2 separate regions of the Homo sapiens genome follow, and region 2 is linked to region 1. Evidence: fine-mapped QTL for protein levels in blood plasma. A gene starts in region 1. The other region holds a variant in brackets. All regions are shown on one strand. Distances are between the middles of the regions.

Region 1 (5,368 bases):
GTTGGCCAGCTGATTCAAGGGCAATGTTAACTTTACTGTTTAGTTTCCACGAGGGTGGGCATCCTGGCCCATGGGCTCCAGGGGCTCTCAAGACTCAGCCTGTGGATATTGAGCTCCTCGGAGCCTGCAAACCTGCCCTCCAACCCTCAGTGCAAATCTGTCAAGCCCAAGTCCTAAGGCCTAGGATCCAGCTGCAGCCACCCTTCTGCTGGCTCAAGCCCATCCAGCTTCCAGACTGCACTCCCAGGTGCATTCCCCATGTATTTCTTCTGCTGCTACTTTCTTCTTCTTTCTTCTCCTTCTCCTTCTTCTTCTTCTTCAAGACAAAGTCTCACTTTGTCACCCAGGCTGGAGTCCAGTGGCATGATCTCTGCTCACTGCAACCTCCGCTTCCCAGGCTCAAGTGATTCTCCCAAGTAGCTGGGACTACAGGTGTGTACCACCAACCTGGCTAATTTTTGCATTTCTTGGTAGAGACGGGGTTTCACCATGTTGACCAGGCTGGTCACGAACCCCTGACCTCAAGTGATCCACCTGCCTCAGCCTCCCAAAGTGCTGGGATTACAGGTATGAACCACCAGCCTTGGCCCTCCCCATGCATTTCTATGGCTGCCTCCCTTCTCTGTGCCCACTGCCCTCATTTCTTTTTCTGGTGTTCAAGGGCTGTGCTATTTGAGACAGTTTCCTCCAAAAATGACTCTCCCTAACAGGAACTGTCTGCTAGACTCCTGGTCTTCTTCACACATCCACTCTCCTGCCTTTGTCCTTGCTGCTTCCTCTGCCAGGATCATACTCTTCTGCCTGGTGTAAAGGACACTCCCCTCCCTCCTTGTGTGCCCACATCCTCCGTTACTGGGGAGGGAGGTTGTGATTTCAGGGCTGCCTCCTATGGTATGTAGCCTCCTTGGGACGGAGGCCCAGGTGCCAGAATGGGCACCTAAAGAACACTTGTGGTTCTTCAGTGTTATATTTTAATGGTCTCAGCTTTATTATGCCTCTGTTTCTTTTCTTTTTTGAGACAGGGCTGTTGGCCAGGCTGGAGTGCAGTGGTGCGATCTCGGCTGACTGCAACCTCCACCTCCCGGGTTCAAGCAATTCTCTGGCCTCAGCCTCCTGAGTAGCTGGCATTATAGTTGTGCACCACCACGCCTGGCTAATTTTTGCATTTGTAGTGGAGATGGGGTTTCTCCATGTTGGCCAGGCTGGTTTCAAACTCCTGGCCTCAAGTGATCCTGTCTCGGCCTCCCAAAGTGTTGAGATTACAAGCGTGAGCCACCACACGCAGCATTTTTTTTTTCCCCAGACAGGGTCTTGCTGTGTCACCCAGGCTGGAGTGCAGTGGCACGGTCATGGCTCACAGCAGCCTTGACCTCCTGGGCTCAAGCAATCCTCTCACCTCAGCCTCTCATGTAGCTGGCACCACAGGCATGAGCTACCACACCTGGGTAATTAAAAAATTTTTTTTTTGTAGAGACGAGGTCTCACTTTGTTGCCTAGACTGGTCTCCAACTCTTGGGCTCAAGCAGTCCTCCTGCCTCGGCCTCCCAAAGTGCTGGGATTACAGGCATGAACCACCGCACCTGGCCTATGCCTCTGTTTCTAAGTGTCTCTAAGTTTTATGGTTCTGTGACCACTGATCTTCCACCCTGCTTTCCCCCTTGGTGATGAGAAAAGAACATTAATGGAGGGATTGGAAGGACTGAGAGATAAAACTAGAGGCTGAGGGGAGGAGTTCTTTTCAGATCTGACACCAGGGAAAACTTGAGATTTGGAAACATACTACTTGTACTTGGGAGGATGAGGGTGGGCTGTGGAGAGGGCTGCAGAGAGGAATCTGATGGGTGCTGGGTCCCTTAAGGGCATTCCTCCTGCCATAACTCATGTGCCTCACCCCAGAGTCCCCTGCTGGACATTCCACAGCTGTGGGTGGGGCCACAGATCATCTCTCTCACCCTCGGGCCTCTGGTTAAAGTGCTACCATGAGGGTGGGGGTGTCACACATTAACTGGTAGCACCCAAGCACCTGGCAGAGTCAGCTTGCCCTTTTTGACAAGCACGCCCCAGGGGCTCAGAGTCAGTTTCTGGTTAGTGTCAGGTCAGTGTTAGTTTCAATGGGGTTTGAAAAGGCCTGGCTGGGGGTGGGGAGTAGGAGTGAGTCCCTGTCTCTAATCCCCAGGCTGGGGCCTAGGAGGAGGAGCCAGGGTGGTCACTGGATCTCAGAACTGCAGTAGGGGCCAGACTCTGGCCCCACCCCTGCTGGTGTGGCAGCCCCAGGCTGACAGGCCTCTGCTGCAGCCATCCCACCGTGAGTAGGGCTCTGGCCAAGGTACACAGACCCTGGGGCCAGGGTGGGCATCAGACACCAACAAGCAAGGCAAGAGGCTCAGCTGTCTGAGCAATGCAGCCTGGCCTTCCTCCCTCAGAAAACCCCTTGGCCAGACCAGGGGTTCTCTGGGACTAATGGCTCACATCTATTTCTGAGTCCTTATATTTCCCCAGTGCTTCATCCCAACACTAGCCCCAAAGTCAGGCTGCATCCAAGCTTAGCCCTGATCCCAGACTGAGCTCTATCTCCATCATGAGCCCCAGCCTCAGGCTGAGTTCTTATCCCAGTCTGATTTCTAGCCCCTGGCTGAACTCTGACCCCAGGTTGTGCCTCCACCCAGCCCTCAACCCCAGACCTCTCTCGGCTTCTAGGCCCCTCTGGAAACTTTTTGAGGCAAGAGCCCAGTAGGGGAGGGGATGGCTAGGCCATAAGTGAAGCGAGGTGCCACTTTTACAGCCATTTCGGCTGCTCATAAACACCCCCTGACACCCAGCTGAGTCGCTGGAGGCTCCCATGGCAGCTGGCTGGGTAGCCCCCTTCCCTTGCAGCAGAAGCATGGCTGCCTGGCTTTCTTGCCTCTCAGGAAGGTGAAGGGAGGGGCGATGGGGGCACCTGGGGCCAGCAGGCTCTGTCCCAACCAGGGAGCACTCCTAAGGCTCCCAAGGAGCTAGAGGTATGGGCTTTCTGTCCCTGCTGGCCTCATGGTTACAAGCCCCCTGCTGTCATAACACCAGGTCCACAGATGTGTCTCCATGCGGGCATGTCTTGTCTGCCCCATAGCACGGCCCAGGTATTTAGACACTCACCCCCAGGGAAACCACAGACTTGGGCTTCCCAGCTGTGCTCAGGCCCCTAGGCTCCCCTGGCCCCCACTCACCTGCAGCCCATGGGCCTTCCAAGTCGGGCCTAAAGCTGCAGAGCAGACTCAAGTTGGCCACGGGGAGGCCATGGATAGTCCCTGAGCAGCTTCTGTGGCTCAGGCCTAAGCAAGGATAGTGCTGCTGGGGACAAGAAAAGACCTGAGTCAGAGCTTCCACTTGAAAAGAAAATTAATTATTTTTTACCAAGCCCTACACTGGCCCAGGACTTTGTCCCAGGCTCCTAGTCAGGAGTAGGAGGCAACAGAGGCAGATCCAAGTGTGCCGGTGTTCAGATGCCCAGGGCTGGGCCCTCCCCTCAGCACCCATGGGTCTGCCTGCCAGGTAACTGGGCCCACTCAGGCTGCCAGACACGTGTGTGTGCCTCAATAGTCCTCTCCTTGCCCTGCCATGCCTCTCTCTTAGTCTCTGTGTCCCTGTCTAACCCTCTGGTCCTTTCCACATCTCAGGAATATCAGGCTGCCACGAGGTATGAACACAGCCCCTACTAGTGACTTCACTCAAGTTTAAGGCACCCAGAGAAATCAGAGGGGGGCTGGAGGTGGTTCTTGCCTGTGTCACAGGCAGGAAAACTGAGGCCCAAGAAAGCCTGATCTGCCAGCACTGGGTACCCAGTGGCTCCTAGACGGAAGAGATGGAGGGGGCCGTCATTCCACTCCAGCCCGTGTCCTGACCCCTACAGCCCCACAGCCACCTCATATCTGACTCCTTGCCCACTGGAATGTGGGCTCCTGGTGAGGAGTCAGCCAGGAAGCCCTCCCTATCTGCCTCCCAGGCCCTTCCAGGCCCAGGGTCTGCTTAAGCTGTCACAGGTCTCAAAGGCAGGGGGCTGTGGACAGGATGACTTCTCTCTGTGGGTCTGTAGAACGAGCTGTGTTCAGAACCAGGGCTGGTTGCTCAGGATGAAGATGTGGGCAGACAGGGAGGCAGAGACCCTGCAAGATCCCAGAAACCTCACCCCCAGGCCCTGTGACCCGGCTGGAGGCTGCCCTTCTGCCTGAGCCCAGTCTGAGCTGGTTTGTGTCTGGAAGTCCTAGGCTCAGCCTGATGAGGTATAATGATTCACGTGGCAGCTGCCACTCAGCACATTCCAGCTGTAGCCCCCAGTGCCCTGCATGTGAGGCAGCTGGCCCCAACCACCCCCAGCCATTGGGCACATTCCTAGGGCCCCCCTCCCTGGGTCTTCCAGGCTCCTGGGGAGGGTACCACTCATTAGAGTTTCCAAAGTACTTTTTGTTTCACAAGTTAGTCAGGGAGGCAGGCTCGGTGATACCTGGCCTCCAGGTGGAGGAAACGGGACCAAAGAGCAGAATGGACTGGCCAGGGGACATAGTGAAACTATGACAAACAGCACTTATGGGACTCCTGCCCCAGCTACTCTGAAGTGCACTGCTCCAAGGGGTATCCTGGGACACGTAGGCTATTCTGTGACCAGGCCAGCGGAGGTCAGTGGGCAGTTGTGCCCAAAGGAGGGAGAGTTCCCCTGTGCTCTGTCAAGCCTCCCTGTTGCCCTGGCTCTTGACTGCCAGAGCCTCTACCTCCCCTGAGTCCACATGCACTGCCCTACCCTGCCCACAGGCCCCATCCTCACTGGCCAGGGAAGCAGGAGGCTGGGGCCTTTTCTGCTTTGACCTGTGGATCCCTGAGCCAGACGCCTTCCTGCTCATGGCCTCAGTTTCCTGATCTGTTGTTAACAGTTGGGCAGTTTCAGGCTCAAAGGGGATCTGTAAAGTGCCCAGGCACTTGGGTCTTGGATGCAAGCAGACCTGGGAGTCTGAAAACCTGAAGGCCTTTCTCTCCTCGAGCCTTGGGCCTGCCAGTTTGCGTTCCTCCTGTGGGCCCCAGCCCAGGGCTCTGGGGGGCAAGTCTGGCCCTCAGCTCCGGGGACAGGAAGTTGTATTTTGGTCCTGGGTTCTGGGGAAGAGGTAGGGGGAGAATGGCAGCTCAGACCCAGCCATGTTTACTCGGGCCCGGCCCCCTCCGAGCTCAACAGGCTCCCATTCATTGGGAGACCCATAAACCCTTTGGGGCTCCCTGAGGTTCAGAACGCCTGGATGCCAAGGCTGGATGCCGCCCCCAGACCTGCTGGGAGCTGTGGGCAGCAGGTGGGGCATGAGTGAGGCATAAGTGGGATGGTGGGTGGGAGCCTGAGACTCGCCTGAGT
Region 2 (5,368 bases), 2.0 Mb before region 1:
AATCCTAGCACTTTGGGAGACTGAGGCGGGTGGATCACCTGAGGTCAGGAGGTCGAGTCCAGCTTGGCCAACATGGCAAAACCCTGTCTCTACTAAAAATACAAAAAAATTAGCTGGGTGTTGTGGCAGGCGCCTGTAGTCCCAGCTACTTGGAAGGCCGAGGCAGGAGAATCGCTTGAACTTGGGAGGCAAGAGGTTGCAGTGAGCCGAGATGGCACCACTGCACTCCAACCTGAGCAACGGAGCAAGACTCCATCTCAAAAAAAAAAAAAAAAAAAAGGACCTTGGTGGGTCTTCCTGGGCCCCTAGGCCTGACTCCTGGGAGTTTTTTTTTTCTTTCTTTTTTGAGACAGAGTTTTGCTCTTTTTGCCCAGGCTGGAGTGCAATGGCACAATCTCGGCTCACTGCAACCTCCGCCTCCCAGGTACAAGCAATTCTCCTGTCTTAGCCTCCCAAGTAGCTCGGATTACAGGCATGCACCACCACACCTGGCTAATTTTTTTGTGTGTTTAGTAGAGAGGGGGTTTCACCACATTAGGCTGGTCACGATCTCCTGACCCCAGGTGATCCACCCGCCTCGGCCTCCCAAAGTGCTGGGATTTCAGGCGTGTGCCACTGTGCCTGGCCCAACTCCTGGGAGTTATACATGAAGGAGTACTTGAGTTTTTAATTTTTTTAATTTTAAATTTTTTTTTGTTTGTTCGAGACTGAGTCTTGCTCTGTCGCCCAGGCTGGAGTGCAGTGGCGCAATCTCGGCTCACTGTAAGCTCCACATCCCAGGTTCACACCATTCTCCTGCCTCAGCCTTCCAACTAGCTGGGACTATAGGCACCCGCCACCACGCCCGGCTAATTTTTTTTTTTTTTGTATTTTTAGTAGAGACGGGGTTTCGCCGTGTTAGCCAGGATGGTCTCGATCTCCTGACCTCGTGATCCGCCCCCTTTGGCCCCCCAAAGTGCTGGGATTACAGGCATAAGCCACTGTGCCCAGCCCAAGTACTTGAGTTTTTGAGATGGGGTCTTTCTTTGTCACCCAGGCTGGAATGCAGTGGTGCAATCACGACTCACTGTAACCTTGAACTCCTGGGCTCAAGTGATTCTTCTGCCTCAGCCCCCCAAGTAGCTGGGACTACAGGCACACACCATCACTCTGGGCTAATTTTTAAATTTTTTTTAGCAATGGTCGGTGTGTGTGTGTCGGGGCGGCGGGGGGTGCTCTCATTATCTTGCCCAGGCTGGTCTTGAACTCCTGGAGCCAAGCAATTCTCTTGCCTTGGCCTCCCACAGTGCTAGGATTACAGGTGTAAGCCACCACACCTGACCAGTTTTTCGTATTTCTTTTATAAGGTAGTATCAATTACTGGAGAGATTTGTAATACCAACCCCAGGAGGCTGTTGAGAGGTCTGAATGCTTAAATATATGTGACATGTCATAGGCAGCACCTGGTGCTGCCCTAAAGACAAGAACAGCCTTGCTTTCTATCACCTGATTGAGAGAAGAGAAGGTTCCAACTTTTGTTGTGCTTCATTTTTACAGCATGCTAATATGACTATAAAGATTTCAGGTATTAGTTTCTCTGTTAAAGTGGAATAAGTTAATGTGTTTTCCTTTAATAAACTTTAAGAAGTTGGATTTGGGTATGAAGAGTCACCTGAGACAGAATTATAGTTCAGAATTTACAAAGTAGTTAATGAAAACAGAGGCTTCTCAGGAGGCAGGGAAATTCTGAGTGGAAATATTGGGTGAAAAGGTATCCACAATCTGAGCTGTGCAGGATGCCAGCCCCTGGGAGGGGCTATAGGCAGTACAGGAGCCACAGAGGCTGGCCTGCCCTCAGATCCAGGAGCTCAAGGGAGGAAGCCCAGGGCGCCATGCGGTTGTATTCTGTCACCACTTCAGGCCACAGCAGGCTGAGTGAGGGTCTAGGATGTAGATGGAGGTGCTTGTAGAGTGAAACTCTATTTCTGGGATCCTTATGACTCTCTGAATGTCCCTAGATTCTATAAATAGCTGCAAGTGTCCTGAAATGTGGATGGGGTTGTTTTGGAGCTGCATTTGCCCATTGATAGTCCTTGTGTCCCACAGACACATGCCCTCTTTGAGCGCCTGGTCTTTTAGCATGTGTGCCAGCTCACGGATGTATCAGGGCCATGCATGACCCCCGTGGGGTCACTTCTGGTACTTTGGACTATGGGCTGTGTTCCTGTACAGTCACATCAGCACTCAGAAAAACAGTCTTCCTGACTGAACAAAGTTAAGACACTCAGGACCCCA[C/T]TCCCACAATCCTGTCAGCCCTGCTGTGTTCACCTCCCTGGAATGGTGTTTGGGGGTGATATGGAAAGGAGTGTTACCAGGGCCTTGGGGTGGAAGTCCAGGAGAGTCTAGCTCTCAAAGATGCCTCCCTGGGATGGAGATGGGGGTGGGGAGTGGGAGAATAGGCCAGGCAGCCATTGAGTGTCCACATGACACCCTGTGCACACACAGAGATCCTATTCAGAGACAGTCTCCAGTCCCAAGAGATGAGGTTTGCTGAGCCTAGGGTTGGGCATTATGGGGAAAATGGAACATGTTGGTCTCATAGGGAGAATTTAGTTGCTGAGAGGACTCCTCAGGGATAGCCATGTGAACTGGGACTGTGAAGATGGCCGTGTTGGAAAGCAAGTCTCTTGACTGTTTGACAGTCAGCTTGGCTGTGTGCCTGAGGTAGATGCATGAGCCCTGCCTGGGGTGAATGCAGGGAGAAATCGCGCTGTTGAAACTGGTGCCCTGCCTGGAGTGAACTCTTTACAGTGGATGTCCCTCTAGCCCCATTTGGCATCTGTTCATAAGCTCCTTGTTGGATGGGACTGACCTGAAGGCTCAGTTGTTGGAGGCTTGGGGTCAAGAGTGCACCGAAGCTTAGGACAGTAGGTGAAGTTTTTCAGTAACATTTGCTAAGTTGTGGAACTCTGTTGAAATGCTAAATGTAACTTTGTGCCCCATTGCCTCCAAACCGTGCTGGTATTGCTAATCCCAGAAAGAAAAGGAGGTAGCCAGGCACAGTGGCTCACACCTGTAATTCCAGCACTTTGGGAGGCCAAGGCAGGAGGATCACTTGAGCCCAGGAGTTTGAGACCAACCTGGGCAACATGGCGAAACTCTGTCTCTACAAAAATGCAAAAATTAGCCCGGCTTGCCTGTAGTCCCAGCTACTCAGGAGGTTGAGGTGGGAAGGTCACTTGAGCCCAGGAGATGGAGGTTGCAGTGAGCTGAGATTGCACCACTGCACTCCAGCCTGGGCAACAGAGCAAGACCCTGTTTCAAAAAAAAAAAAAAAAAAAAAAGCCGGGCACAGTGGCTCATGCTGTAACCCTAGCACTCTGGGAGGCCGAAGTGGGTGGATCACTTGAGGTCAGGAGTTCGAGACCATCTTAGCTAACATAGTGAAACTCCGTCTCTACTAAAAATACAAAAATTAGCTGGGTGTGGTGGCAGGTTCCTGTAATCCCAGCTACTCGGGAGCTGAGGCAGGAGAATCATTTGAACCCAGGAGGTGGAGGTTGCACCGAGATCGCTTCACTGCACTCCAGCCTGGGGACAGAGTGAGACCGTGTCTCAAAACAAACACAAACAAACAAAAAGACGAAAGAAAAGAAAAGAAAGGGAGATGCCAGAGGTGGCACAGACAGCTGTGGGTGATAGATGGTAGGAGCCTCAGACTGCTCTTTATACTCAGGGTTGTTCATTCTGTGGGGGCCAGAGTGAAGACCCATACCTCTTGACACTGGGGGACTATTTCCCTGTACAGGGTCCACAGGACCTGTCATGCCTGCCTGGGTATCATCCCTGTCTGGTCCTTTCTCAGCGTCTTACAGCACGTTGCATGCAGTTGCCTTGGCTATCCCTTAGCCTTTAGAGGTGGCCACAGCCATCCTCCTTGGCCTTGAAGCTGTCCTGCTTGAATCTTGGCTTAGAGTGTTCTCAGGCCCTTGGTAATCCAGGGGAAGTGAGACTGGAGGGGAACTACTGGGGGAGATTAAAGTCCAGATCCTGGGTTAGAGACTTCCCCCACAAAAACCCCAGCATGTTAACTAGGGAGAATTGAGGCTCAGAGAGGCCTGGAAACTTGTCCATAGTCACTGTGCCTGGCAGGCGCATGGATGGAAGCCATGTTTTACTATATAAAACTTCTCTTACAGGTGAGGGATTCTGAGCGTGTACCACATGGGGTGGGCCTTGTGGCCAGACTCCCATTGCTCTTGCCACTGAGACCCTTGCTCTGGGAAATTTGACATTAAAATATACCTAGAACTGAGTTTTTGTGCGAAATCTGATTCATTTGTGGCTAGGCTTCTACCCAGTCCAAGTACTTATTTTTTTTCTTACAAAACTGTCCTCTTTGCTGGGATTGGCCTCTGTCCTCGGTGGTTAGTCACAGGTGCTTGCTTCTGCTTTTTGTTTTCAATGCAGCTATCCCCAGCTTTTTGCAGCTGGGATGTTATCTGGCGTATTCACCACAGGAATCATGACTCCTGGAGAACGGATCAAGTGCTTATTACAGGTAAGGTTGTGATTGGAGGGGAAATAGCTTTTTCCTTTCAGTTTATAATTTCGTGTGCATGTTTATGTCCTTTCACCCTTAATAAAGGCTTCAGGACTGGGTGCAGTGGCTCACACCTGTAATCCTAGCACTTTGGGAGACCAAGGTGTGAGGATTGCCTGAGCCCATGAGTTAAAGACCAGCCTGGGGGCCAGGTGCAGTGGTTTACGCCTGTAATCCCAGCACTTTGGGAGCCGAGGAGGATGGATCACTTGAGGTCAGGAGTTTGAGACCAGCCTGGCCAACATGGTGAAACCCCGTCTCTACTAAAAATACAAAAATTAGCCAGGTATAGTGGTGGGCACCTGTAATCCCAGCTACTTGGGAGGCTGAGGCAGGAGAATCACTTGAACCCGGGAGACAGGTTGCAGTGAGCTGTGTCACGCCACTGCACTGCAGCCTGGGCATGAGAGCAAGACTCTGTCTCAAAAAAACAAAACCAAAACAAAACAAAACCAAAAACCAGCCTGGGCAACATAGTGGGATCCCATCTCTACAAATTTTTTTTTTTTTTTTTTTGAGATGGGGTCTTGCTGTGTTTCGCAGGCTGGAGTGCAGTGGCACGATCTTGGCTAACTGCAACCTCCACCTCCCGGATTCAAGTGATTCTCCTGCCTCAGCCTCCTGAGTAGACGAGATTGCAGGCGCCTGCCACCATGCCAGGCTAATTTTTATATTTTTAGTAGAGACAGGGCTTTGCCATGTTGGTCAGGCTGGTCTTGAACTCCTGACCTCCAGTGATCCACCTGCCTCGGCCTCTGAAAGTGTTGGGATAACAGGTGTGAGCCA

Direction of the effects. Positions count from the first base shown, and alleles are read on the strand shown. Strength reflects both the effect of a copy and how common the allele is.
As copies of T replace C in region 2, the plasma level of the protein whose gene starts at base 3,326 in region 1 goes down (moderate association).

The links. A credible set is the group of variants that fine-mapping cannot tell apart. PIP is the chance, under the fine-mapping model, that this variant and not a neighbour inherited with it causes the effect. Protein levels are from antibody-based Olink assays in UK Biobank. Linkage for the fine-mapping came from a reference panel and not from the study's own genotypes, which makes the PIPs less certain.
Region 2: its variant is the best candidate, but not a certain one, in a credible set for the plasma level of the PTH1R protein (UK Biobank, PIP 0.86).

Annotation. Positions count from the first base shown.
Region 1 is chr3:46,875,679-46,881,046 of GRCh38, reverse strand. PTH1R (parathyroid hormone 1 receptor) reads right to left here and starts at 3,326. Exons shown (of 16, transcript NM_000316.3): 1 at 3,204-3,326. It also overlaps a transcript of MYL3 not described here.
Region 2 is chr3:48,878,530-48,883,897 of GRCh38, reverse strand. SLC25A20 (solute carrier family 25 member 20) reads left to right here. Exons shown (of 9, transcript NM_000387.6): 4 at 4,450-4,540. Among named protein-coding and RNA genes, the nearest start is that of SLC25A20, 18 kb to the left of the region's middle. The variant C/T (reference allele first, on the strand shown) is at 2,275.